Homo sapiens: one gene and its partners. The protein of the gene in region 1 purifies or fractionates together with the protein of each later gene. This does not show direct contact. Each region holds a gene or a part of one and is shown in the gene's direction. Other genes may lie near its edges. The genes, in order: AGO3, ECI2, OTUD4, PRKAR1A, RBM10, SLC25A3 and AP3M1.

Region 1 (3,500 bases):
TGATTTGCTAGCCTTGTAAACCTAGACTTACAGTTAATGATTTTAAATGTGTTGGGATAAGGCGGTGGAGGTGGGTATAATAAACATTTTTAAGTGTTTTATAAGGAGCTTGTATCATCAAGAATTTTGGGTCATTTCAGTTATATTATATCCACTCAGAGAAAATCATGGTGTCCTCTTACAAGATGTTGAAACTGATAGTATGAAATAAAAGGAATAAGGCCTTTGCAATTATTTCATTGTTTGAATCCCAGTTCTGCCCTTTATTGTGTGCTATTGAGCAAATTATTTTGTATTCCTGAGCCTTTATTTCCCTAAACAAATGGAAATAATCCCTAACTTGCAGGATTGTTACCAGGTTTTAGAAATAATGTGTTCAAAGTGCCTGATCCATAAATGGTTAACAAATGGTGTGACTGTTGTTGATCTTGTCAGCATTCTCTCTCTCTAAACATCTAGTTTTCTCCAAGGTAAATGCTGATCTTCATAAATCACACGTTCAAGAATACCTACTATGCACAGGTACCATAAATTGGAGCACTTTAAGTTAATTTAAAAAAAATTTTTTTTAGTGTCTTCCACCCATAGTGGGGTCAACTATCAGCTAAGCAGTAGTAGAGACTGTATTAGGTTTTGTTGTGTATCAGCGCTCACTTTCAGCAACATGTAAGAATAGGAACTAGGACCTGCGTAGTCTGCTCTGAATGACTGCTTAAGTCATATTTCAAGGTGAAAGTAGTGAAATGTAGGATCAGCCTATGTATTCATACATTTTTTAAAGTGCTTTCAGATATATTTTTACCTTTTTCTTGTTTGTTTAAACTTTAACCAAACAAATCTAGGTTGGAAGAAGTGGCAATATCCCAGCTGGAACAACAGTTGATACAGACATTACACACCCATATGAGTTCGATTTTTACCTCTGTAGCCATGCTGGAATACAGGTAAGCCTACACTTTGGGTAAAATATTTTAATTCAAGAACTGTCATTCTTACGTGTATTTTTTAAATCTCAGAAAAAGGATAAAGAAATACTCTTTGCATTCCAAATTGTTTCCACATGAAATTAGATGAAACTTTCAGTAAACAAATGTCTTCCCTTTCCTTACCTTGAGAGGGGCTTAGGAACTTATTTTTATGAAAATACCAGAATATAAGTAGTTTAATAGAATGAATCTCCCTAAAACAGGCCCTTAATTTCACTAAAATGTTAAAAAATGTGAAAGTACCTGATTGTTCCTTTAGCATATGCATCTTTAAAAAAAAAAGAGAGAGAGAGAAAGAGAAAGCACTATTTTGCTCAGGCTAGACTAGAACTCTTGGGCTCAAGCAGTCCTCCCACCTCAGCCTCCCAAGTAGTTGGGACAACAGGCCTCCACACTCAGCTAATGACGATAACATTTTATAGAAAACTTTGACATGTACTAGTAGTATTAAGCATGTGAAAGAGTTTAATTGGGCTGGGCATGGTGGCTCACGCCTATAATTCCAACACTTTGGGAGGCTGAGATGGGCAGATTGCTTGAGTTCAGGAGTTTGAGACCAGCCTGGGCAACATAGAGAAACCCCGTCTCTACAAAAAATATAAAAATTAGCCAGGTGTGGTAGCACGTGCCTGTAGTCTCAGCTATTCAGGAGGCTGTCGTGGGAGGATCACTTGAGCGCGGAGGCAGAGGGAGGTTGCCATGAGCCAAAATCATGCCACTGCACTCCAGGCTAGGTGACGGAGCCAGACCTTGTCTCAAAAAATAAAAAAAAATTTAATTGTAGAATTACAGCTTTAGTTTTTTTTTGTTGTTGTTGTTGTTTTGTTTTGTTTGTTTGTTTGTTTGTTTTTGAGACAGAGTCTCACTCTGTTGCCCAGGCTGGAGTACAGTGGCATGATCTCGGCTCACTGCAAGCTCCGCCTCCCAGGTTCAAGTGACTCTCATGCCTCAGCCTCCCTAGTAGCTGGGATTACAGACTGAGATTACTGGGTGCCACCACACCCAGTAATTTTTTTATTTTTATTTTTTCTAGTAGAGACAGGGTTTCACCATGTTGGCCAGGCTGGTCTCAAACTCCTGACCTCAAGTAATCCGCCCACCTTGGCCTCCCAAAGTGCGGGGATTACAGGCTTGAGCCACTGCACCTGGCCTTAAGTTTCAGTTAAATAATTTAAAAAGTTTTTCTTATTCTTTCCAGAAAACCTTTTCATTAATGTGTTAGCTTTACTTGGTGGAACATAAGCTTTAAATCAGTGCATCTCAAACTTTCCAACAACAAAAAGTAAACTGACATTCCCAGGATGTCTGAGAGTCTATAACCCAAAACTATTTTAGGTTACTTGCCATTATTGATTAAGATAGAAATTTCCAGATGTACCTTACCATACAGCTCTGTATCTTATAGCTTTATATGTCCCACATATACGAACCTGTTTCAGATTCATGGCTTTAAATTATTGTCTGACTCATTTATCCATGTTCTTATATCAGCTCCTCTTTACAATTAATGTTGTACATTTTCAGGGTTGGTGGTTAATGGGAGGTCCAGAGGAAGTGATGTCAGCAAGATGGCTGACTAGAAGCCCCTAGTGCTTGCTCCCCTCACAAAGAAAGCCAGAAAAACAGATAAACAACTACATTTTTTTTTTTTAACGGAGTCTCACTCTGTCACCCAGGCTGGAGTACAGTAGTGTGATCTTGGCTCACTGCAACCTCTGTCTCCCAGGTTCAAGCAATTCTCCTGCCTCAGCCTCCCAAGTAGCTGGGACTACAGGCACCCACCACCATGCCGAGCTAATTTTTGCATTTTTAGTAGAGATGGGATTTCACCATGATGGCCAGGCTGGTGTCGAACTCCTGACCTCAGGCAATCCGCCCACCTCAGCCTACCAAAGTGCTGGGATTACAGACATGAGCCACCATGTCCGACCTTTTTTTTTTTTGAGATGGAGTTTTGCTTTTGTCGCCCACGCTAGAGTGTAATGGCGTGATCCCAGGCTAGAGTGTAATGGCGTGATCTCAGCTCACTGCAATCTCCACCTCCCAGGTTCAAGCGATTCTTCTGCCTCAGCCTCCGGAGTAGCTGGAATTATAGGCTTCTGCCACCACACGCGGCTAATTTTTATATTTTTAGTAGAGATGAGGTTTCACCATGTTGGCCAGGATGGTCTTGAACTCCTGACCTCCGGCGATCCACTTGCCTCAGCCTCTCAAAGTGCTGGGATTGTAGGCATGAATCACTGCACTGGGCCAAACAACTATATTTTAATGAAAATAACTGAGGGAGAGCCCTGGAGTGCATCAGAGGAGTAACAGAAACCCTGGTGAGCACAGAAACTCGGGATGACCACACAGAGAACAGAAAGAAACACTGAGCCTCCACTACTCCATCTCCAAATCAGGATCAGCTGGGAACCAGGAGGAACTTCTCCCTGCAGTGAACAGATAAGCAAGAGGATCCCAGCAATCCCCATCAACACCTTGGACACCTACACTGGGGTCCCCAGCACTGTT
Region 2 (3,500 bases), on another chromosome or scaffold:
ATGCTGCTTACTGGCAACTTTGCATGTACCTGTTTGTGTCCCTTTAGCTGTTGTTGGCAGGTTTCTCAGTTTCCTGCTTGTATTCCTTAGGCTGTGTCTTCTGGGTACATTTTTTTGAATAAGTTTTCTTTTGGATAAAAAAAGAAGATACATGACATTAACAGAAACTTTTAAAAATATTGTGATTATTTTTATGTATATGCTGCATATGTTATAGATTTATATCTTCTAACAGTTATATAGTAAAAACAACAGCGTGTCTGATTATAGGAAATGAAATCTAAATATTCTTTTACATATTATGAATTTTAAATTAACATTCTTTCATAATTTATTCATTAAGAAACACAAAAATATGTCTTAAATGTAAAAAAAAAAAAAACTAAAAATGACTATATACTAAATAACCAATATTGAATTAATTCCAGTAGTTAAAGCCAACCAAAAAAACCACTGGGGCAAAATCAAGACAAATGACAGATTGAGGAAACAATTTTTCAACTCATGTAACAAAAGCTGATCTCTCCACGATACTTTTTAAAGTTTGTCTATAAAGCGATAGATCCACAAGCTAAAATAAAAATGGGCAATGGTGAGGAATGAATAGGTCAGACAAAATGAAATATAAAGGGCTATTAAAACCATATGAGAGAAACCACTGAGAAAATGAAAAGATAAGCCATAGACCAGGAGAAAAGATTTGCCTGACGCTCTAATAAAAGACTTGCAATCTGAATGTGTATCTTACAACTATATAATAGGAAGGTAAACAGCCTAACTTAAAAAAATAGTGGAGAAAATATCTTAACAGTTGCTTCACCAAAGAAAATATACGTATGTCTAATAAGTACATGGTAAGAGACTTAATACCATTAATGGTTAGGGACATGTAAATTAAAACCACAGTGAGACCCCACTACATACATACTAGCATGGTTAAAATGAAAAAGACTTAATAGCTAGGTTTAGTGAGGATGTGGAGCAATTGGAACTTTCATACATTGCTGGTGGGAATGTCAAATGGTACAACCACTCTAGAAAACAGTCTAGCAGCTTCTGAGCTAAATATACATTTACCACACAGACCAGCCATACCACTTAGGTATTTACCTATGATAATTTAAAAGAGATTCACCCAGTGACCTGTACACAAGTGTTCCTAACTGCCTTTTTGTTAACATTATCTGAACATTTTTATTTTTAAATTTTTTTTCAGTTTCATTGAGGTATACTTGACAAATAAGAATTGTACAGTCAGGTGCTGCATAACAACATTTTAGTCAATGGCAGACTGCATGTAAAACGCTGGTCTCCTAAGATTATAACACCATATCTTACTATACCTTTTCTTTTTTTTTTTTCACTCTGTCATCCAGGCTGGAGTACAGTGGCATGATCTCGGCTCACTGCAGCCTCCTCCTCCCGGGTTCAAGCAATTCTTGTGCCTCAGCCTCCCGAGTAGCTGGGACTCCAGGTGCACACCACCACACCAGGCTAATTTTTGTATTTTTAGTAGAGATGGGGTTTCACTACGTTGGCCAGGCTGGTCTCGAACTGCTGACCTCAGGTGATTTGCCCACCTCTGCCTCCCAAAGTGTTGGGATTACAGGCATGAGCCACCACACCCGGCCTACCTTTTCTATGTTTGATATATTTAGATACACAAATGCCATTTGTTATAACTGCCTAGAGTATTAAGTATAGTAACATGCTGTCCAAGTTGGTAGCCTGGAAGCAGTAGGGATTACCACATAGCTAGGTGTGCAGTAGGCTGTGGCATCCAAGTATATGTAAGTATACTCCATGATATTGGCACAATGACAAAATTGCCTAATTATGCATTTCTCAGAACATATCCCCATTGTTAAGCAACACACGACTAGATATATTTAAGGTGTTCAACTTGTTTTTCATAGCAGCCTTCTTCATAGTAGCCTTTCATACGTTGCTAGTGGCAGTGTCAAATGGTACAACCATTTGAATGCTAGAAACAACACCAATGGCATTAACTGGTGAATGATAAACATATTATTGTGCATCCATACAAAGGAATACTACTCAGAAATAGCGAGGAACAAACTACTAATACATACAACAGCATGGTGACTCTCAGAAGTCAGACTCAAAATGCTACAGAATGTAGGATTCCACTTATACAGCATTCTATAAAAGTCAAAACTGTAGGGACAGAAAACAGATTAGCAGTTGCTTGGGGGTGGGAGGGAGGGACTGACTACAGAAGGGCCCCCGGAACCTTTCAGGGTGGCTGAAATGTTCCGCATGTCAGTAGTGGTGGTGGCTATGTAACTCTCTATTTGTTCAAACTCATCCAACTATACACTTTTAAAGGGTGAATTGTGTGTGCATATTAACCACATAATCTTAATTTTTAAATAAATATTATTAAGTATTGTGAAGTTATAAGCAAATCGTGATTTTTAAAAATAACACATGAAGCCAGGCATGGTGGCTCACGCCTGTGATCCTAGCACTTTGGGAGGCCGAGGCAGGTGGATCACCTGAGGTAAGAAGTTTGAAACCAACCTGGCCAACAGGGCGAAACCCCGTCTCTACGAAAAATACAAAAATTAGCCAGGCATGGCAGCGCATGCCTGTAATCGTAGCTGCTGTGGAGGCTGAGGCAGGAGAATCGCTTGAACCCAAGGGGTGGAGGTTGCAGTGAGCCGAGATCGCGCCACTTCACTGCAGCCTGGGCAAAAGAGCGAAACCCTTTGTCTCAAAAAAAAAAAAAAAAATCACACATGAAAAGATGGTTTTCTTTTCTCTCCTGCCTCTGCAGGCAACATTTCATACACCATTTAGTCACCTAGGCCAAAGTCCGGAAGGATGCTCCTCTTACACTTTTCCGAAGATAATGAGCCCAGCCAAGGTAACTTTTGGAATGTTTAAATATAAAATTTTATGAGTCATCTCAAGAAAGAAGGAAGAGTAATCTCATATACTCTCCCTTCTTTCCCTTGGTAATATGGACAAAAGAGAAGCTAATGATTTGCTTTTCAACTCTTTAAGAGTTTTACCAATGGAGGAATCAGGCTATGGGAAGTATCTGCTATGCAGGAAAATTAGAAATTCTCTCTGCAGTTCCCAGAACTGGGATCCTCCTCTTCAGCTGGCTGCTTAGTGCTAGCTGCACTGCAAGCAGCACAGCACCTCAGCCTTGCAGCTGTGTGGCATTAGTCACTTGAAGGACCAGGGCTGTGCCAGCCTCCCTTGGTCCCCTGAGTTTGGAGGCCACTCGGTTCCTTTATGGATGACCAGTATCTCCTAAGGAGAGACATGATGACGTCTTCACTTTCAGAGTTACAGTAAGTACCAACAGATGGGAGGTTTTGTGGGGGCTCACGGCTGCCAGAGCCACCCCCAATCACAGCAGCCCTTCCATCAGCCTGCTCACGGGTGTATTCTCTCCCAGGCTGGTTAAGTGGCTGCTCAGGTCTTTCACTGTGTTTCCTAGTTGCCCACGCCCTGTGGCATGACTC
Region 3 (3,500 bases), on another chromosome or scaffold:
GGTTGCAGTGAGCCGAGTTGCGCCGCTGCACCACAGCCTGGGTGACAGAGTGAGACTCTGTCTCAAAAAAAAAAAAAAAAAAATTCAGACTTGCAGTGTAAAAAATACGCTGAGTGTAAGTAATGCTGAACCCTTAATTTTATCAGAAGGCATTCATAGGTTTTTAATTTTCAGGGTTCAGTGTGAACTCACATGTCAGAACATTATAATTATGTAAGTAGTGATTAATAGTTAATAAAATGTTGTATAACAGCTTAATATAATTTTCTCAGTAGTATGTGAAATAAGATGCCACAGTGACCTGTTTTCATTTTACATTCAAAGTCTTACAGGATTTATTACTTACTGGTTTTAAGACCTAGAATTATGTAATCTGACAACTTTGGGTGTTATTTCCCCCAGTTGACTGGTAGAGAATGTTGATATAATACTTTGCAAATGATAGGCTTGAAACCTTGTTTTATTAAAAAAACCTGGTAACGCAGAGGCTAGATAAGAGAGTGCAGAGGTGTGGTAGAGAAGGGAAGTGGGGAGGTGGAATGGTCTTTAAATTAATTCTTATTAATCATTGGCCCCAGAGGGTAAAACTGTGTTGATAATAATGGACATTGCTAACATTGGTTGAGGTGCTTACTATATGCCAGGCATTAAGTGTTTTGCATATATTTTTTTTAGTCCATATAATTTTTTTTTTTTGAGACAGAGTCTCGCTCTGTCGCCCAGGCTGGAGTGCAGTGGCGCCATCTTGGCTCACTGCAAGCTCCGCCTCCCGGGTTCATGCCATTCTCCTGCCTCAGCCTCCAGTGTAGCTGGGTCTACAGGTGCCTGGCACCATCACGCCAGGCTAATTTTTTGTATTTTTAGTAGAGATGGGGTTTCACCATGTTAGCTAGGATGGTCTCGATCTCCTGACCTCATGCTCTGCCTGCCCCGGCCTCCCAAAGTGCTGGGATTACAGGCGTGAGCCACCGTGCCTGGCCTTAGTCCATATAATTTTATGAGGTATGATCAGAGGTTGAAAGTTCCATGGGGAAAAGTTTCACTTTCCTTTTATGAACCTTCAAGCAGTTTCAGTTGTCCAGAATTGGAAAGAGATGTTGTAGAAAGTATTATGCCTTGTTACTGACATTGTTCAGCCATGGCATAGGTGGACGCTTTCTGCTCAGAAAGGAGACTCTCAGAGAGGATGCAGGCTTGTGTCAGAATTCTGCAGTCTCTAGTAACTTTAAATGGTTCTGTGTTTTTTTTTTCCTTAGACCTATAATCATCTAATACAGAACAGTAGCCCTTTATTGGTGGGCTCTTTAATATATATGGCTCTTTTATTATAAATATCTTTCGAAATTTAAGATATTTTTGGCAATTTGACATTATATAATCTATGAAAGAATCTCAATCTTAAAATCCAAGGGTGCTTAAAAGATTTTATAGACAAGGGAGTATACTTTAATGTCTTTAAGTATATCTCTGCTAAATCAACTGGGACTGTAATTTAAACGCAATTGAATTTGGTGGTTCAACAAATGACTTTTAGAGATTTCTCAAATGAGTGCGATTGCTATTAAAGAAACATAAAAAAGGTTGTGTTATTACACAGCTTGAATAAACTGTTTTTATGTCAAAGTAACAATGAAGCGATGAAGCAAGCTGTATTAGAAAAATTTTGTTGATGCTTCAAAATATTTTTCGCCTTACTAGTTCTCATCGCTCTTTCTAGTATCACTTGAGAGACAATGAGTACTCTTATCTGTATTATTAAGCTATACTATTTCTTAGCTTGTAAGTCAGTCTTTGTTTTATTCCCTTCTACACACTGGTCACTACCAAGTTAAAGCACTGCTTTCATCATATAATTTCTCAGTTCAGAATGTCACCTGAAGTGGCCTTGAATGGCCTTTCTCATCTAGCCTTCAAGTCCTGCCTGGGCTCAAGGCCCTCTGTAAACAGGCCCCCCTTTGGGTTCTTCTCCCACTCAGTTCCACAACAGGTTGTCCTGCTCCAGCTGGCCAGATTGCTTGTCTTCCCAACACAGTGTTCCTCTTCCTCCTCACGCCACATTGGCCCTCTCTGTAGAGTATCAGCTGCCTGTTGCCATCCAGATCCTGTCCAGCATTCATCTTGAGTCACTCTTCTTTCAGGAAACCTTTCCTGACAGAATTTCCTTCTTTAAATTCTTTTGTATGTTTATAGTCTTTAATGATTGCTATATGTTTTCATAATTAGATTATGTACATATTTTTAAATAATACTGAGGTATTTTAGGTTTATGTACAAACTCAGTAATTCACAGTGAATGTTTACACAGCGAAGCGGTTAACTGTTTTGGCATATATGTTAGATGACATTTCTAATAGATTTATTTTTTGCAGTTTATAGAAGGATCATTTGAAGAATATTTAAAGCGTTTGGAAAATCCACAGGTATGTCACAGTCTTCTAGTATATTTCTATTTTTATATATCCAAATAATGTATTTAAAATTCATTAAAATAGAAGATTACTATTACAGTGTATAGAGGAGTTGCAGTGACGGTGTATCCTATTTCCTTATAAACGTTTCCTACACATTTTATGCAGCACTTAAGTTGGAGCTATATGTTAGAGGTTGCCTCACTAAGGCAGAGTTGTGATATTTTATCTTGGCTATAATGGCATGTAAATGTAGTATAAAAATCTGAAATAATACTGGGGTGATGATTTTCAGAATGCTACGTTGGTGTGTGTATGGAACTTGGACAGGGTGAAGTTTGATTTCTTTTTTTTTTTTTTTGAGGTGGAATTTAACTCCATTGCCAGGCTGGAGTGCATGGCATGATCTCGGCTCACTGCAGCCTCCGCCTCCCGAGTTCAAGCGATTTGTCTCCCGAGTATCTGGGACTACAGGCGTGCACCACCATGTCCAGCTAATTTTTTTATTTTTAGTAGAGATGGGGTTTCACCATATTGGCCAGGATGGTCTCGATCTCTCGACCTCGTGATCCGCCTGCCTCAGCCTCCCAAAGTGCTGGGATTACAGGTGTGAGCCACCACACCTGGCCTGCAGAGTTTTTCTTCCTAGGCAACTGAGAAGGCAGAGTTCTTTCATGCAGGTTCCTATTTCCATGATCATCTCGTGAAGAGGGAAGAGACTGTTGAGACAGAAAAGGATAGCACTTACTCACCAACTCCTGCTGCTATACTTTTTCAGTCATGTTTATGTTAAAAGGATTTTTCTTAATTTTTCTGTTTACAAAACTAACGTTCTCACTGTAAAAATCCAAGTATCTTGGAATGCCATTTAGAATGTTAAGGTAAAAATAACATTGGCAAAGAAAAAAGCTAAGAAGAGTTAAGGAGTAAAGGGAATGTAATGTAGGAACCAAGGGTGTTTGATCGATGACTGATGTATCCATTTGGTTGCCTAACACTAATTTGAGTGCTTGTTATGGGCCAAGAATTCCTAGTCACCCTGGGGATGCAGAGATAATGTAGATAACAAAAAAGTTTCCCTATCATAGGAAA
Region 4 (3,500 bases), on another chromosome or scaffold:
AAATACTGCCAGTCTCTTTGCATAGCGAGAGTCACCTTTACTCCAGTTCTCAAGTTCCTCATCTCCATCTGAGACCACCTTAGCCTGGACTTCATTGTCCATATTACTATCAGCATTTTGGTCAAAGCCGTACAAGAAATCTCTAGGAAGTTCCAAACTTTCCCACATTTTCCTGTCTTCTTCTGAGCCCTCCAGACTGTTCCACCCTCTTCCTGTTACCCAGTTCCAAAGTTGCTTCTGCATTTTTGGGTATCCTTGTAACAGCACCCCACGCTCTGTGTACCATTTTACTGTATTAGTCTGTTCTCATGCTGCTAATAAAAGACATACCCAAGACTGGGTAATTTATAAAGGAAAGTGGTTTGACTCACAGTTCCTCATGGCTGGGCAGGCCTCGGGAAGCTACAATCATGGCAGAAGGGGAAGCAAACACATTCTTCTTCACATGGCAGCAGCAAGGAGAAGGGTCAAGCAAAAGGGGGAAAAGCCCCTCAAAACTGTCAGATGTCATGAGAGCTCACTATCACCAGAACAGCATGGAGGTAACCACCCCTGTGATTAAATTACCTCCCACCAGGTCCCTCCCACAATATGTGGGGATTATGGGAACTATAATTCAAGATGAGATTTGGGTGGGGACACAGCCAAACCATATCAGTCTGAAAATACAGTCATATTCTCATCACCTTCTTCGTCATTACTGGGGGGTTGTGTTTCTGTTACCTTCAACTACTCCATAAGAAATGTACCAAAAACTCTTGACAGTTGGTCTTTTGAAAGCTTCTGCATTTTAATTCAGTCATCTGGAATTTGAGTCTTCTTTTACTCTTGTATTTATTAGACCCTTAGGTAAGAGGAATTAAAATAACAGTGACCTTGTGTCTGCTGTGTCAGGTACTGTGTGAAGCACTTTATATACATAAATACTCGTTATTTCAAATGTACGAGGTATGTGATTTTCAGCATTTTATAGACATAGCAGTAAAACTGAGAGAAATTAAGTAATGTGGCTGTGGTTATAGACTGTAGTCGTCAGCTTTTGCTGGAGCAACATACAACCCCCAAATTTCAGTGGTTACTACAACAGACCAGTCATGTGCAGTTCTTCTGGTATCAGCCTGTCTTATGTTCTTGACACCACATATCTTGTTCTGGGGCTGAGCAGAAGGAGCAGCCCTATATAGGGCATGCTGTTCTCAAAGCAGAGGGAGGGCAGAAGCTCAAGGTGGACAGAGCCAAACCACACAGGCAACCATGGTATGGCATGTCCACTTACATTCCATGGCCAGAGCAAGTCCTGTAGCCAAGCCTTAAGTCAGTGGGGTGGGAAGTATACTTTACCCACAGGGAAGAGTGACAGAAGCAGGGAGGGAACAAATAATCGGGAAAACATAGTAGTGGGGACAGAATTTGAACCTAAGAGTCAAGAAGATAGTGCAGAATTTAATGCAAAACCGAATGCAGAATTTGAACCTCAGAGTCAAGAACATAATTAACCACTGAGTAGACTGGGAGGTTTTTTCTAATTTTTAATTTTTTATTGATATATAACATTTGTATGTTTTTATGGAGTACATGTGATATTTTACAGGCATAGAATGTGTAATGATCACGTCAAGGTATTTAGGTTATTCATCACCTCACTTAAAGAGCTGAGGAGGAAGGAGACTGACAGAAGGATGACAACAGCAAGAGAAAGGATATAAAAATATATCATAGTATATACTAGAAAACTCATGATCTGAGTAATGGCTCTGAGTTGTCAGATTAGGTTATATTCAGATTGCTGTTTTTAAAAGACTCACTAGAATCCATGAGACACTGCTAAAATCAGAATGCTTTTGTTACTTCAAAATTAATCTTAAAAATTCAGTGAAGTAGAATGTAGTCCCAAGTGAAATGTTATTTGTGAAATTTTTCCTGAAATTTTTGTGAAATGTCAGTGACAAATTTGGGGGTGGGAGAATTTGTGTTTTCATTTATACTCTTAAACTGTGTGTGTGTTTTATTTTATTTTTATTATTATTTTTTTGAGACAGTCTTGCTCTGTCACCCAGGCTGGACTGCAGTGGTGCAATCTCGGCTCACTGCAACCTCTGCCTCCTGGGTTCAGGCGATTCTCCTGCCTCTGCCTCCTGAGTAGCTGGGGCTACAGGTGCCTGCCACCACACCTGGCTAATTTTTGTATTTTTAGTAGAGATGGGGTTTCACCATAATGGCCAGTCTGGTCTTGAACTCCTGACCTTGTGGTCTGCCCACCTTGGCCTCCCGAAGTGTTGGGATTACAGGTGTGAGCCACCATGCCTGGCCTATTTTTTGAGACAGGATCTCACTCTGTTGCCCAGGCCTGAGTGCAGTGGTGCGATCATGGCTCACTGCAGTCTCTACCTTCCAGGCTCAGGTGATCCTCCTGCCTCAGCTTCCCAAGTAGCTGGGACTACAGGTGTGTGCCACCACGCCCAACTAATTTTTATGTGTTTTTGTAGAGATGAGGTTTTACAATGTTGCCTAGGCGGGTCTCGAACTCCTGGACTCAAGTGATCTGCCACCTTCGGCCTCCCAAAGGGTTGTGATTATAGGCGTAAGCCACTGTACCCAGTCATGTATTCTTAAACTTTAAACTTGGGAGAGACTTGAGTTTTATACCTGTGTTAATATGAAATGAGAAAACCTTACTGGTTATTGGAACAACCAGAATTAACATGAAATGAGTTTTCTAAAAACCATATTTTAAAAAGTAGGTTACATATTCACATATTTCAAAGTTGTGCAGGTACAAAGGGGCATAATAATGAAAGGTCTCCCTCCCACGCCATTGCTTTTCTTGAATGCTGCCAATGTTCTGGAGATTAATATATGGGCACTTACAAATTTATATATAGAAAAGAAATAACGGGTCAAATGAATGAGAAAGTAGAAGATAACACATTTTTATTTTTTCCCTTTTACTTCAGGCACAACAACTAATTCTTTAGATCTGAGAGGAATTTGTTTTTAAGGCTCTAGATGTGAAAAAAGGAATGTTTAATAGTTTATCTTAGGTTTTATTTGAATTGGTCCAATAAGTAGTTTTTAAAAGCAAGTAAACTCTTTTTGTCTTTTAACTTCAAGTTTAAACCTTGATTACAAAGAGTGATCCTAGCTCTGCTGGGAGAAGTATTATAGATACGATCTCGTTTAAATTCGTGGTTACCATCACATCATTTCATTATTTGTTTTTATCTGGGATCAAACTGGAATGTGAATTCCACAGGCTCAGGACCCTCTCCTATTTGTTTTTAATTTCCTGTTGCCTAGCATAGGTCTTGGCCTGGCAGATCCAGAAAATGGCTTATTGAGTTAATGAAATAACTCAGTAATCTAGACATTCTTGGATCACTATGTTGGGCTTGAATTGTTTTTCCTGATAACATTTCTTTTGGCAGGAGGGTCTCTTGCTATCTGCAGTAGCATCCAAAAAAACCCAATTTTCAGGATTTTGTCTTGCAGTGTGTTACTGT
Region 5 (3,500 bases), on another chromosome or scaffold:
GCGGGTTATCCCCTTGCCAAGGGCAAGAATTGCATCCCAGGTTTCCTTACTTCGTGGCTGCCAGCGAGCCCTTTGTCAGATCACCCTGCCCACCGTTCTTAAGTGGCTGGCTCACTTGCTCTCTTGTTCTCTGTGCCCCTGAGGGTCGTCCTGCTGCCATGCTTTACCTTGCTCTGTGCCCATTTCTTCATTTGATTCACTTTCTGCAAGTCTGGGGCTGAAAGTCAAGACTGTGAACTGGTGTGGGCCTGGGGCTGTTGTCACTCAGGGAAAAGCTGCGAAAGAGGCGGAGGAGACTGTGTGCACATCACCGATGACCCCTCGGGATCCAGAGGCCTCCAGCCAGCCTCAGGTACCCAGCGGCCCCATTGTGCTGAGCCTGCCCTACTCTGTATCTCCCCGTATAGATCCGTGGCCAGCTGCAGTCGCACGGCGTGCAAGCACGGGAGGTTCGGCTGATGCGGAACAAATCTTCAGGTGAGCTTTTGTTCTAGTGCCCTCCCCTTCAAGTGGCCAGCCTCAGCCTCCGAATCTCCCTCCTGCCTCTGCCTTCTCCCCCACTCCCTCCACCACCTTCCTGCCACAGCTGGGAATGGGCAGCGTGGGGGGTGCCCTCTCTTCTCTCCCACTCCCCACACTCTCCTCACAGCTCCAGCCAAAAGCCTCTTCAATGGGGCTGTCGGGGCAGGGGTGCAGCTCTGAGCTGAGCTGGGTGCTCCCTGGGGTCAGGGCCAGGGCCAGGCTCCCAGGCACCTCCTCTCTGGGACTCTGAGTATCTGAGATGGTAACCCCCTCCCATACACTCCCTTCCCTCTCCTTTCTTCTCCTTCCTCTGCCCCTCACTTTCCCCCACATTTTTTGGTAACAGCCTCTGACCAGAAAGTAGCTCTGACGTGGTGGTCCCACATGTGTGTCCCAAGGGGGAAGCAGGGGATGGCTCTTATCCAAGGACACATCCCAAGGAACAGCCAGGACTTCCTGGCCTCGCCTGTTCCCTCCCTCCCTCCCTCTTGCAGGCTGCTTGGAGCTGGCCTGAGGTTAGCAGGGTGGTGGTGGGGGGAGTTGTCTCTACAGGACCTCTGCCCAGGCTCCCCAAGGCAGGCACAGTGGGGCCTCACTCTGCCTGGGCTTCTCTCTCCATCTCTCAGTCTCTCCTCCCCACACCTCCATCTCTCTCTCTCTCTCTCTCTCTCTCTCTCTCTCTCTCTCTCTCTTTCTCCCTCTCTCTCTTTCTCTCTCTCTGCCCCCCCCAACTATATTATTCATTCCATCCTCCTATGCATCCTAACGGTTATTCTTTTGAACATTAAGCATGCCCCCCCAAGCCCCTCTCATCCAAGCCCTCCCCATGTATCTGCCTCTAAAGGACATGCTATCCTGAGGCCTCAACCCTGAATCCCTTTCCCAAGCCTGGAATCTTGGTTGCATGTAGGTCTTGCTCTGCATCACCCCAACTACACCACACACGGACAGCTTCTGGGTCTCTCTCTCCACAAGGAGGTGTTCCAGGTGCGGCCTTCTCAATGGCCCTGGGCGCTTCTCCCAGGCACCCATTGATTCTTACCTCTAAGGTCCTCCTGGCCAATCCTGGCCACCATTCTCCTTTTGTCCAGGGGAACCTGGACTGTTTGTGGCTGTAGTCTCCACCCTGTGGCCCTGAGGTGGCTCCCTAGCGAGGCCCGCCTCCCCTGCGCTGCGGTGAGGCTGAGATGAGGTCGTGTCTTTAACCGCCCCTGGTTTCCAATGGGCCAAGAGCCTTCCTAGCCTCGCAGAGCAGCCTGGCCCAGCTTCTCTTTTGCTCCTGTGATTCAACACCTGTTACAGGACCCCTCCTGGGCACCCCTGGCCTTGAGCTGGGCCCGCCCTGGAGTTACGTATTGTGGCTTGTGTGGAGCCAGCAGCCTGCCCACCATCCCCTCCCTCCTTCTTTGGAGGCAGATCTCTCGTATTCTTTCCCTCCCAGCTGCTTCTCTCCGTCTCTGTCACCCCAGGCTGGCTGGGCAGGTCTGCCCGAGCCCCATCTCTCTCTTCCCAGTTGGTGTGTGTGTCTCTCCCCCTACCGACCTCTGGCCTCTGTTTTTCTCCCTCCACCTTCCCTGCCCCACCTGGCCATCTACCTTGCCCCCCACGCCCGCTAGTCTTTCTCTCTCTGATTGCCTCTTTCTCTTTCTTCCTTTTTCCTCTTCCCCTTTCCCTCTCTGCCCCCCGTCCTCTCCCCTCGGGTCCCGCCCCCGGGAACGCCGTGTGTCCAAAGCTGTTGACTAACCCACTGCGTCTGTATCTGAATGCTGTCTCCAGGTCAGAGCCGGGGCTTCGCCTTCGTCGAGTTTAGTCACTTGCAGGACGCTACACGATGGATGGAAGCCAATCAGGTTGCTTTGCCGCACTTGAACCCCCCCCCAAACAAATACTACTTTGTAATCGAGCGCTCCCCATCGCCTGATTCTTATGGACACAGTTCCCTGCCCTGTGGCCCTGTGTCCCATCCCCCCGCCCCCTCTCTCCCCTTCCTGACCCTCACTATCTCCTCTTCCCATCTCTCGCTACCCCACTGGGCTTCTCATCCAGAGCCCACACTCACCACTGGCCCCTTCCTACCACCAGGCACTAGTGCTGCCCCTTCACCTCTCCCAGCTGAGCGTTCAGAGAAAGAGCTGCCAGGGTGGGTTCTTTCACCTAGCTTCCCACTCCCCCGGGGCTGGTGGGGGGGGCACCCCTCTCTGGGGTTAGCCAGAGCCAGGACCTCATTCCACCCTCAGGACCACTGGAAGTCCTGCCAGTGAGGAGCTTAGCTATTGGCACAGTCACTAGCAAGACTCATTTTGTCAGCCCCATCCCTGCATGTGAATTTGGCCCTTTGATTTTCATGCAAGGGGACAGCACTGCTCTGTTGATCTCAAGTTCCCGTCGAGTATGATAGTTTTATCGACACCCTGGCCTCACTTCGCCGCCCCTACCCTTCCTATCACATCTCCACACTCGCAGGAGGCACCACCTCAGGCAGCTCTGTCTTCTCGGCAAGGACCTGTGCACAGTCAGCCCTGGGGGGAGCCTGTCCCCCAAGCCTGGCACGGGATCCCAACTCAGCAGCTTTGGGACCTCCGAGACCCAAAGATCTGCCTGGTCACCCACCCCTGCCCAGATCCCTGGTGTAGGGCACTGGAGAGCAGTTTCAGGGGAGGAAGGGGCAGAGGTGGTAGAATGGGGGATCCCGGCAGAGGCAGCCCTGGGGCCGTCTCCTCGGGGTTGGTAGGCTAGTGCCATGGGCCCAGGACCCAGCCATCCATGGGAAGACGGCCTCATGGCAGAAACTTCCATCTGTTCGAAATGGCTCTTTCTTTTTCCCCTTCTCCAGCACTAGCGCACCTGCGCTCTCTTTCTCTTTTTCTCCCCTCTCCCTCCCCCTCCCTGTCTCCCCTCACCCCCCAAGTGTAGCCTGTGTAGTCCTGGCCCTGGGTGTGGCCTGGCAGTGTCAGGGCCGAGTGGGGGTTTCTCCCCAC
Region 6 (3,182 bases), on another chromosome or scaffold:
GGCATTGATACAAAATACGCTGTGTTCAAGCTATGGAGCCTGCCACTGTAGTTACTAGAGTTACGGTTCAAAGCTATTTCTGAGAGAAAGCCACTTCATCCTCAAAACCCAAGAGGCCCACTTAAAGTGATGCGAATTCTCATTTCAGGTTTTTAAATTATACTAAAAGATTCTAGTAAGAAAATTTTAATATGTATGTATTGGTGTTCTTTTTACATTTCATTTAATGAAATGTCTACTGTCAATACGATAAAGCAGAACCCAGTGGAGTAAGAATACACGAAACTGCCAGGCACAGTGGGTCATGCCTGTAAACCCAGCATTCTGGGAGGCCGAGGCGGGTGGATCACCTGAGGTCGGGAGTTCAAGACCAGCCTGACCAACATGGAGAAACCCTGTCTCTACTAAAAATACAAAATTAGCTGCGGTGGTGGTGCGTGCCTGTAATCCCAGCTACTCAGGAGGCTGAGGCAGGAGAATCGCTTGAACCCGGGAGGCGGAGGTTGTGGTGAGCCAAGATTGCGCCATTGCACTCCAGCCTGGGCAACAACAGCGAAACTCTGTCTCAAAAAAAAAAAATATATATATATATATATATATATGAAGCTGATAGTTGAATTATGTTGATTCAGGGACAAGATAGCATTGCATAGTAACTTCCAGTAGGATCAAATATTTTGAGAGTGGTTAAAACGCCAAGGAATCCTGATTTTATGAAATTATGCCTTCTGATAGGTGCAACAAAATTGAACAGAAGAGTAACAGCTTAACTAAACCTCCATTGTGTGAAAGTTTTATGAAATGTTTTGACTTTTTTTTTTTTTTCCCTAGAGAACAGGGTTCTTGCTTTGTCGCCCAGGCTGGAGTACAGCCTTGAACTCCTGGGCTCAAGCGATCCTCCTGCCTCAGCCTCCCAGTTAGCTGACACAATTGGGATGTGCCACTACTTGCTCCTGTTTTTTCATAGACGGGTCCTGCTGTTGCTCAGGCTGGTCTCGGATTCCTGGCCTCAAGCAACTTTCCTGCCCCAGCTCCTAAAGCGGCCAGGGTTACAGGTAGCCGCCTTGTCTGTCCCGTTTCGACCATATTTTATTTTTGAGAAGGTCTTGCTCTGTCGCCAGACTGGAGTGCAGTGGCACGATGATAGCTCACTGCAGCCTCGATCTCCCAAGCTCAAGTGATCCTCCCACCTCAGCCTCTTGAATAACTGGGACTGCAAGTGTGGACCACCATGTCTGGCTAATGTTTTTTATTTTTAGCAGAAATGAGGTCTTGCTATGTTGCCAAGGCTAGTCTTGAACTCCTGAGCTCAAGCGAGCCTTCTGCCTTGGCCTTCCAAAGGGCTGGGATTAGAGGGCTGAGCCACCACACTTGGCCAACCATATTTTATTTTTTATATTTTTATTTTATTTGATCCTTGTTCTGAAACCATAAAGTGAGTTTAACATTTCTGGCTGGGCACAGTGGCTCATGCCTGTAATTCTAACACTTTAGGAGACCAAGGCAGGAGGATGCCTTGAGCCCAGGAGTTTGAGACCATCCTGGACAACATAATGAGAAAAGAAAATACAAAAATTAAGGGGTGTGGTGACACATGCCTGTAGTCTCAACTATTTGGGAGGCTGAGGCAGGAGGATTGCTTGAGCCCGAGAGGTTGAGGCTACAGTGAGCCATGTTTACGCCATTGCAGTCCAGCCTGGGCGACAGAGTGAAACCCTGTCTCAAAAAAAAAGTAACATTTCTATATGATTTTTGGGATCGACATGTCCATAATGTTAATGAAGCGCATAGCAGTCACTAGTAAATTAGGAGTTATACATTGCTTCTATAGCATCAGAAATTGTATATCAGGCCAGGTGCAAAAGCTCACTCCTGAAATCCAAGCACTTTGGGAGGCTGAGGTGGGCGGATTGCTTGAGGTCAGGAGTTCAAGAACAGCCTGGCCAACATGATGAAACCCCAGGTCTCTACTAAAAATACAAAAATTGGTCAGGCATGGTGGTGCATGCCTGTAATTCCAGCTACTCGGGAGGCTGAGGCAGGAGAATTGCTTGAACCCGGGAGGCAGAGGTTGCAGTGAGCCAAGATTGTGCCACTGCACTCCAGCCTGGGCGACAGAGCCAGACTGTCTGAGGAAGAAATTGTATATCAGGCTGGGCACAGTGGCTCATACCCGTAATCCCAGCACTTTGGGAGGCCCAGGCTGGGTATCACTTGAGCCCAGGAGTTGGAGACCAGCCTGGGCAACAAAGTGAGACCCCTCTCTCTACAAAAAATAAATTAGCCAGGCATGGTGGCACGTGCCTGTAATCTCAGCTACTTAGGAAGCTGAAGGAGGATCGTCTGAGCCCAGGAGTTTGAGGCTGCAATGAGCTACAATCACACCCCTGCACTCCGGCCTGGGCGACAGAGTGATAACCTGTCTAAAAAAATAAAAATAAATTGTATAATCATATTGCAATTTTCTTTGCATTACTGATGAGGAAAAATCTCAAAGTAATTGTAAAAAATCCTGGATATCACATAGTTGAGAAACAAAGTTATTTTAAACTTACAGGACTCTGTAGTTCACAGTTGAACACTGTGGCTTCCTGAAATATCAAAGAATAATGTACATTAATAAGCCAGCTACTATCGGCATCTTGTAAAAATTAAAAAATTAAACATAAATAAAAGTTCAAACTATGTGTTGAATCATTTGTCTTTTACAAGCCAGCCCTGACTTCACATTCTCAGAGGTGTTCATAGAAGTGCATGAGATGTTAACCTCACCACTGATAAGGTTTATGAATCTCCTGGTTATTAAGGTGTGACCTGACAAGTTTCCTAGAAAGCAGCTATTCCAGAGTTTTCATGTGTGTTTTTATAGACACTGAAGTGCAGTATGCAATAGTCACTTAATAAGTATTGCTACACTGAATGAAAGAGCCTTGGGGATGTGTCTCTTACACAAGATATAATTCCTACCTAATACTGTGAATAATAATTTGATGTTCAAATCAGCCAGCTTGCTTTGCAGAATCCAGTGTATTGCAAAGTTTGAAGATGGAAAATAATTCATGTGACAGGCCATATCATTATTCCAAGACCCATGATCTTAACACTAGAGGGCTATATTAGTCAAGGTTAAAACTGCTAAATCTCAAGGAAGCATTAACATCTGAAAATATGGTATACCCAAC
Region 7 (3,500 bases), on another chromosome or scaffold:
CAAAAAATTAGCCGGGCATGGTGGCGCGCACCTGTAATCCCAGCTACTCGGGAGGCTGAGGCAGGAAAATTGCTTGAACCCAGGAGGCAGAGGTTGCAATGAGACAAGATCATGCCATTGCACTCCAGCCTGGCTCTGTCTCAACAAAAAAAAAAAAAAGAAGAAGAAAGGAAAAGAAAATTGAAGTCCTTTGGCAGTATGGTTTCGGTGGAAAGGCATTCATTATCTGATGATTTTTAAATCTGTTTGTTTATTTATTTATTTATTTGAGACGGGGTCTCACACTGTTGTCCAGGCTGGAGTGCAATCACATGATCTTGGCTCACTGGAACCTTCACCTCCTGGATTCAAGCGATCCTGCTGCTTCAGCTTCCCAAGTAGCTGGGATTACAGGCATGAGCCACCACACCTGGCTAAATTTTTTTTTTTTTTTTGAGACGCAGTTTCACTCTTATTGCCCAGGGTGGAGTGCAATGGTGCAATCTCAGCTCACCGCAACCTCCGCCTCCCGGGTTCAAGCAGTTCTTCTGCCTCAGCCTCCCGAGTACCTGGGATTACAGGCATGCACCAGCATGCCCAGCTAATTTTGTGTTTTTGGTGGAGATGGGATTTCTCCACGTTGGTCAGGCTGGTCTCGAACTCCTGAACTTAGGTGATCTGCCCGTTTCGGCCTCCCAAAGTGTTAGGATTACAGGCGTGAGCCACCGCTCCCGGCCCTGGCTAATTTTTTGTATTTTTAGTAGAGACGGGGTTTCACAATGTTGGCCAGGCTGGTCTCAAGCTCCTAACCTCAAGTGATCCACCTGCCTTGGCCTCCCAAAGGGCTGGGATTACAGGCGTGAGCCACTGCACCTGGCCCATAAATCTGTTTATTTTGCCCATAGGTTACATATAATTTTCATAACCACTAGTTGAGGTCTGCCAAACATGTAAATCAGAACTCATAATGCCTTACTTTAAGCCAATTATTACCCTATGTACCTCTACCTCTTGCTATTTATTCCTTCTAACATTTATTGAAAATCTGCTATATACCATGCTTTTGCTACTACATTATGTGCAGTACTTCTGGTAAAAGCCCCTATCTGATTATTTTTCACTTTCTTTTTTTTTTTTAAGTACAGGGTCTTGCTCTTTTGCCTAGGCTGGAGTGCATTGGCGCAGTCCCTGCTTACTGTAGCCTTGACCTCCAGCTCATGTGATCCTCCTACCTCAAACTCCTGAGTAGCCTATAGTCCCAGCCAATCAGGAGGTACACGCCACACGCCACCATGCCTGGCTAACTTTTATTTGTTTTTTTTGTACAGACAGGGTCTCACCATGTTGCCCAGGCTGGTCTTGAACTCCTGGGCTCAATCAGTTTACCTACCTCAGCCTCCCAAAGTGCTGGGATTACAGGCATCAGCCACCACACCCAATCTGATTATCTTTTTAACCAGACAAAACAATAGTACTCTATAAGAATCGTAAAATTTTATTATTAAAAATAGCAGCCGGGCATGGTGGATCACGCCTGTAATTCCAGCACTTTGGGAGGCCGAGGCAGGCAGATCACTTGAGGTCAGGAGTTTGAGACCAGCCTGGCCAACATGGTAAAACCCCGTCTCTACTATAAATACAAAAATTAGCTGGGCGTGGTGGCAGGCGCCTGTAAACCCAGCTACTTGGGAGGCTGAGGCAGGAGAATTGCTTGACCCTGGGAGGCAGAGGTTGCAGTGAGCCAAGATTGCACCACTGCACTCCAGCCTGGGTGACAGAGTGAGACTCCATCTCTAAAAAAACAAAAAAAGAAAAAAGAAAAAAAATCTAGTCCTTCCTTTACATTTATTTTACACATAAGGAAAGCCCAGAAGGGTTAAGTGAACTGTTCCAGGTCACACAACTTGTTAATATGTAATGATGGCTTATTGTGAATTATAGTCAATATCTTCTCTTCCATGAGTCCCCTTTTCATTATAACATTCCATCTTATAGAATAATAGATTTTTGCCAGGCACGGTGGCTCACACCTGTAATCCCAGCACTTTGGGAGGCTTAGGCAGGAAGATCACTTGAGCCCAGGAGTTCAAGACCAGCCTAGGCAACATAGCAAGACCCCATATCTATCAAAAATTTAAAAGATTAGCTAGGCATGGCTTCCTTAATCCTACCTATTCAGAAGGCTGAGGCAGGAGGATTGCTTGAGCCCAGGAGTTCAATGCTGTGGTGAACTATGTTCACACCACTGTACTCCAGCCTGGATGGCAGAGGGAGACCCTGTCTCTTAAAAAAAAAGAGATATCTTTCTATTATGGATCCTATTTCTTAAAAGTTAACTTAGTCCATTTCATAATACACTTGCCACATTTTAAAATTCTATTGAAGCCGGGCGCGGTGGCTCACACCTGTAATCCCAGCACTTTAGGAGGCTGAGGCGGGTGGATCACGAGGTTAGGAGATCCAGACCATCCTGGCTAACACAGTGAAACCCCATCTCTACTAAAAATACAAAAAATTAGCTGGGTGTGGTGGCAGGCGCCTGTAGTCCCAGCTACTCGAGAGACTGAGGCAGGAGAATGGCGTGAACCCGGGAGACAGAGCTTGCAGTGAGCCCAGATAGCGCCACTGCACTCCATCCAGCCTGGGTGACAGAGCAAGACTCCGTCTCAAAAAAAAAATTAAAAAAAAATAAAATTCTATTGAAAATGGTTTTGGTTGGTTTGTTTTATTTTGTTTTTGAGACAGAGTCTCACATTGTCGCCCAGGCTGTAGTGCAGTGTTGTGGTTTCAGCTCACTGCAACCTCCGCCTTCTACGTTCAAGCGATTCTCCTGCCTCAGCCTCCCAAGTAGCTGGGACTACACGCACACACCACCACGCCTGGCTAATTTTTTGTATTTTTAGTAGAAACGGGGTTTTGCCATGTTGCCCAGGCTGGTCCCAAACTCCTGAGCTCAGATAATCTACCCACGTCAGCCTCCCTAAGTGCTAGGATTACAGGCATGAGCCACTGCGTCCTGCCAAATGTTTTAAACTCATATCCAGTCATCTTACAGGGTTGGCTCCATAAAGGAAACAGTTTAATTTTCCTTAGAATTAGCATATTCTGGCTGGGTATGGTAGCTCACACCTGTAATCCCAGCACTTTGGGAAGCTAAGGTAGGCGGATTGCTTGAGCCCAGAAGTTTGAGACCAGCCTGGGCAACATAACAAGACCCTGTCTCTACAAAAAAAATACAAAAATTAGCCAGGCGTGGAGGTGCATGCCTGTAGTACCAGCTGCTTGGGAGGCTGAGGTGGGAGGATTGCTTGAGCCCAGGAGGTTGAGGCTGGCTATCATAGCACCACTACGCTCCAGCCTGGGTGACAGAGCAAGACCCTGTCTCAAAAAAAAAAAAATTATATTCTACAGTGGCATACCTGTAGTCTCAGTTACTCTGGGGACCAGCTGGGACTAGCTAGTCAGACTTTATCTCTTAAAAATAAAAGAATTATTATTATATTCCAGCCAGAGTTAAGTAT

What was found.
Region 2: the proteins of AGO3 (region 1) and ECI2 purify together in Homo sapiens (co-immunoprecipitation; one large-scale study listed by IntAct). This does not show direct contact.
Region 3: the proteins of AGO3 (region 1) and OTUD4 purify together in Homo sapiens (affinity purification with mass spectrometry; one study listed by BioGRID and IntAct). This does not show direct contact.
Region 4: the proteins of AGO3 (region 1) and PRKAR1A purify together in Homo sapiens (affinity purification with mass spectrometry, with the first as the bait; one large-scale study listed by BioGRID). This does not show direct contact.
Region 5: the proteins of AGO3 (region 1) and RBM10 purify together in Homo sapiens (co-immunoprecipitation; one large-scale study listed by IntAct). This does not show direct contact.
Region 6: the proteins of AGO3 (region 1) and SLC25A3 purify together in Homo sapiens (co-immunoprecipitation; one large-scale study listed by IntAct). This does not show direct contact.
Region 7: the proteins of AGO3 (region 1) and AP3M1 purify together in Homo sapiens (affinity purification with mass spectrometry; 3 studies listed by BioGRID and IntAct, with this or other methods). This does not show direct contact.

What each region holds. Positions count from the first base shown.
Region 1 is NC_000001.11:36,042,605-36,046,104, forward strand, and holds part of AGO3 (protein argonaute-3), read left to right. Parts: intron 1-842; coding exon 843-944; intron 945-3,500.
Region 2 is NC_000006.12:4,118,576-4,122,075, reverse strand, and holds part of ECI2 (enoyl-CoA delta isomerase 2), read left to right. Parts: intron 1-29; exon of another isoform or gene 30-127; intron 128-2,800; coding exon 2,801-2,890; intron 2,891-3,500. UniProt on the Homo sapiens protein: Able to isomerize both 3-cis and 3-trans double bonds into the 2-trans form in a range of enoyl-CoA species. Has a preference for 3-trans substrates.
Region 3 is NC_000004.12:145,170,590-145,174,089, reverse strand, and holds part of OTUD4 (OTU domain-containing protein 4), read left to right. Parts: intron 1-2,369; coding exon 2,370-2,420; intron 2,421-3,500.
Region 4 is NC_000017.11:68,518,930-68,522,429, forward strand, and holds part of PRKAR1A (cAMP-dependent protein kinase type I-alpha regulatory subunit), read left to right. Parts: intron 1-3,500. UniProt on the Homo sapiens protein: Regulatory subunit of the cAMP-dependent protein kinases involved in cAMP signaling in cells.
Region 5 is NC_000023.11:47,172,721-47,176,220, forward strand, and holds part of RBM10 (RNA-binding protein 10), read left to right. Parts: intron 1-407; coding exon 408-477; intron 478-2,298; coding exon 2,299-2,372; intron 2,373-3,500. UniProt on the Homo sapiens protein: Binds to ssRNA containing the consensus sequence 5'-AGGUAA-3'. May be involved in post-transcriptional processing, most probably in mRNA splicing. Binds to RNA homopolymers, with a preference for poly(G) and poly(U) and little for poly(A).
Region 6 is NC_000012.12:98,603,686-98,606,867, forward strand, and holds the end of SLC25A3 (solute carrier family 25 member 3 isoform b precursor), read left to right. Parts: 3' UTR 1-2,682; downstream 2,683-3,182. UniProt on the Homo sapiens protein: Inorganic ion transporter that transports phosphate or copper ions across the mitochondrial inner membrane into the matrix compartment. Mediates proton-coupled symport of phosphate ions necessary for mitochondrial oxidative phosphorylation of ADP to ATP.
Region 7 is NC_000010.11:74,130,329-74,133,828, reverse strand, and holds part of AP3M1 (AP-3 complex subunit mu-1), read left to right. Parts: intron 1-3,500. UniProt on the Homo sapiens protein: Part of the AP-3 complex, an adaptor-related complex which is not clathrin-associated. The complex is associated with the Golgi region as well as more peripheral structures.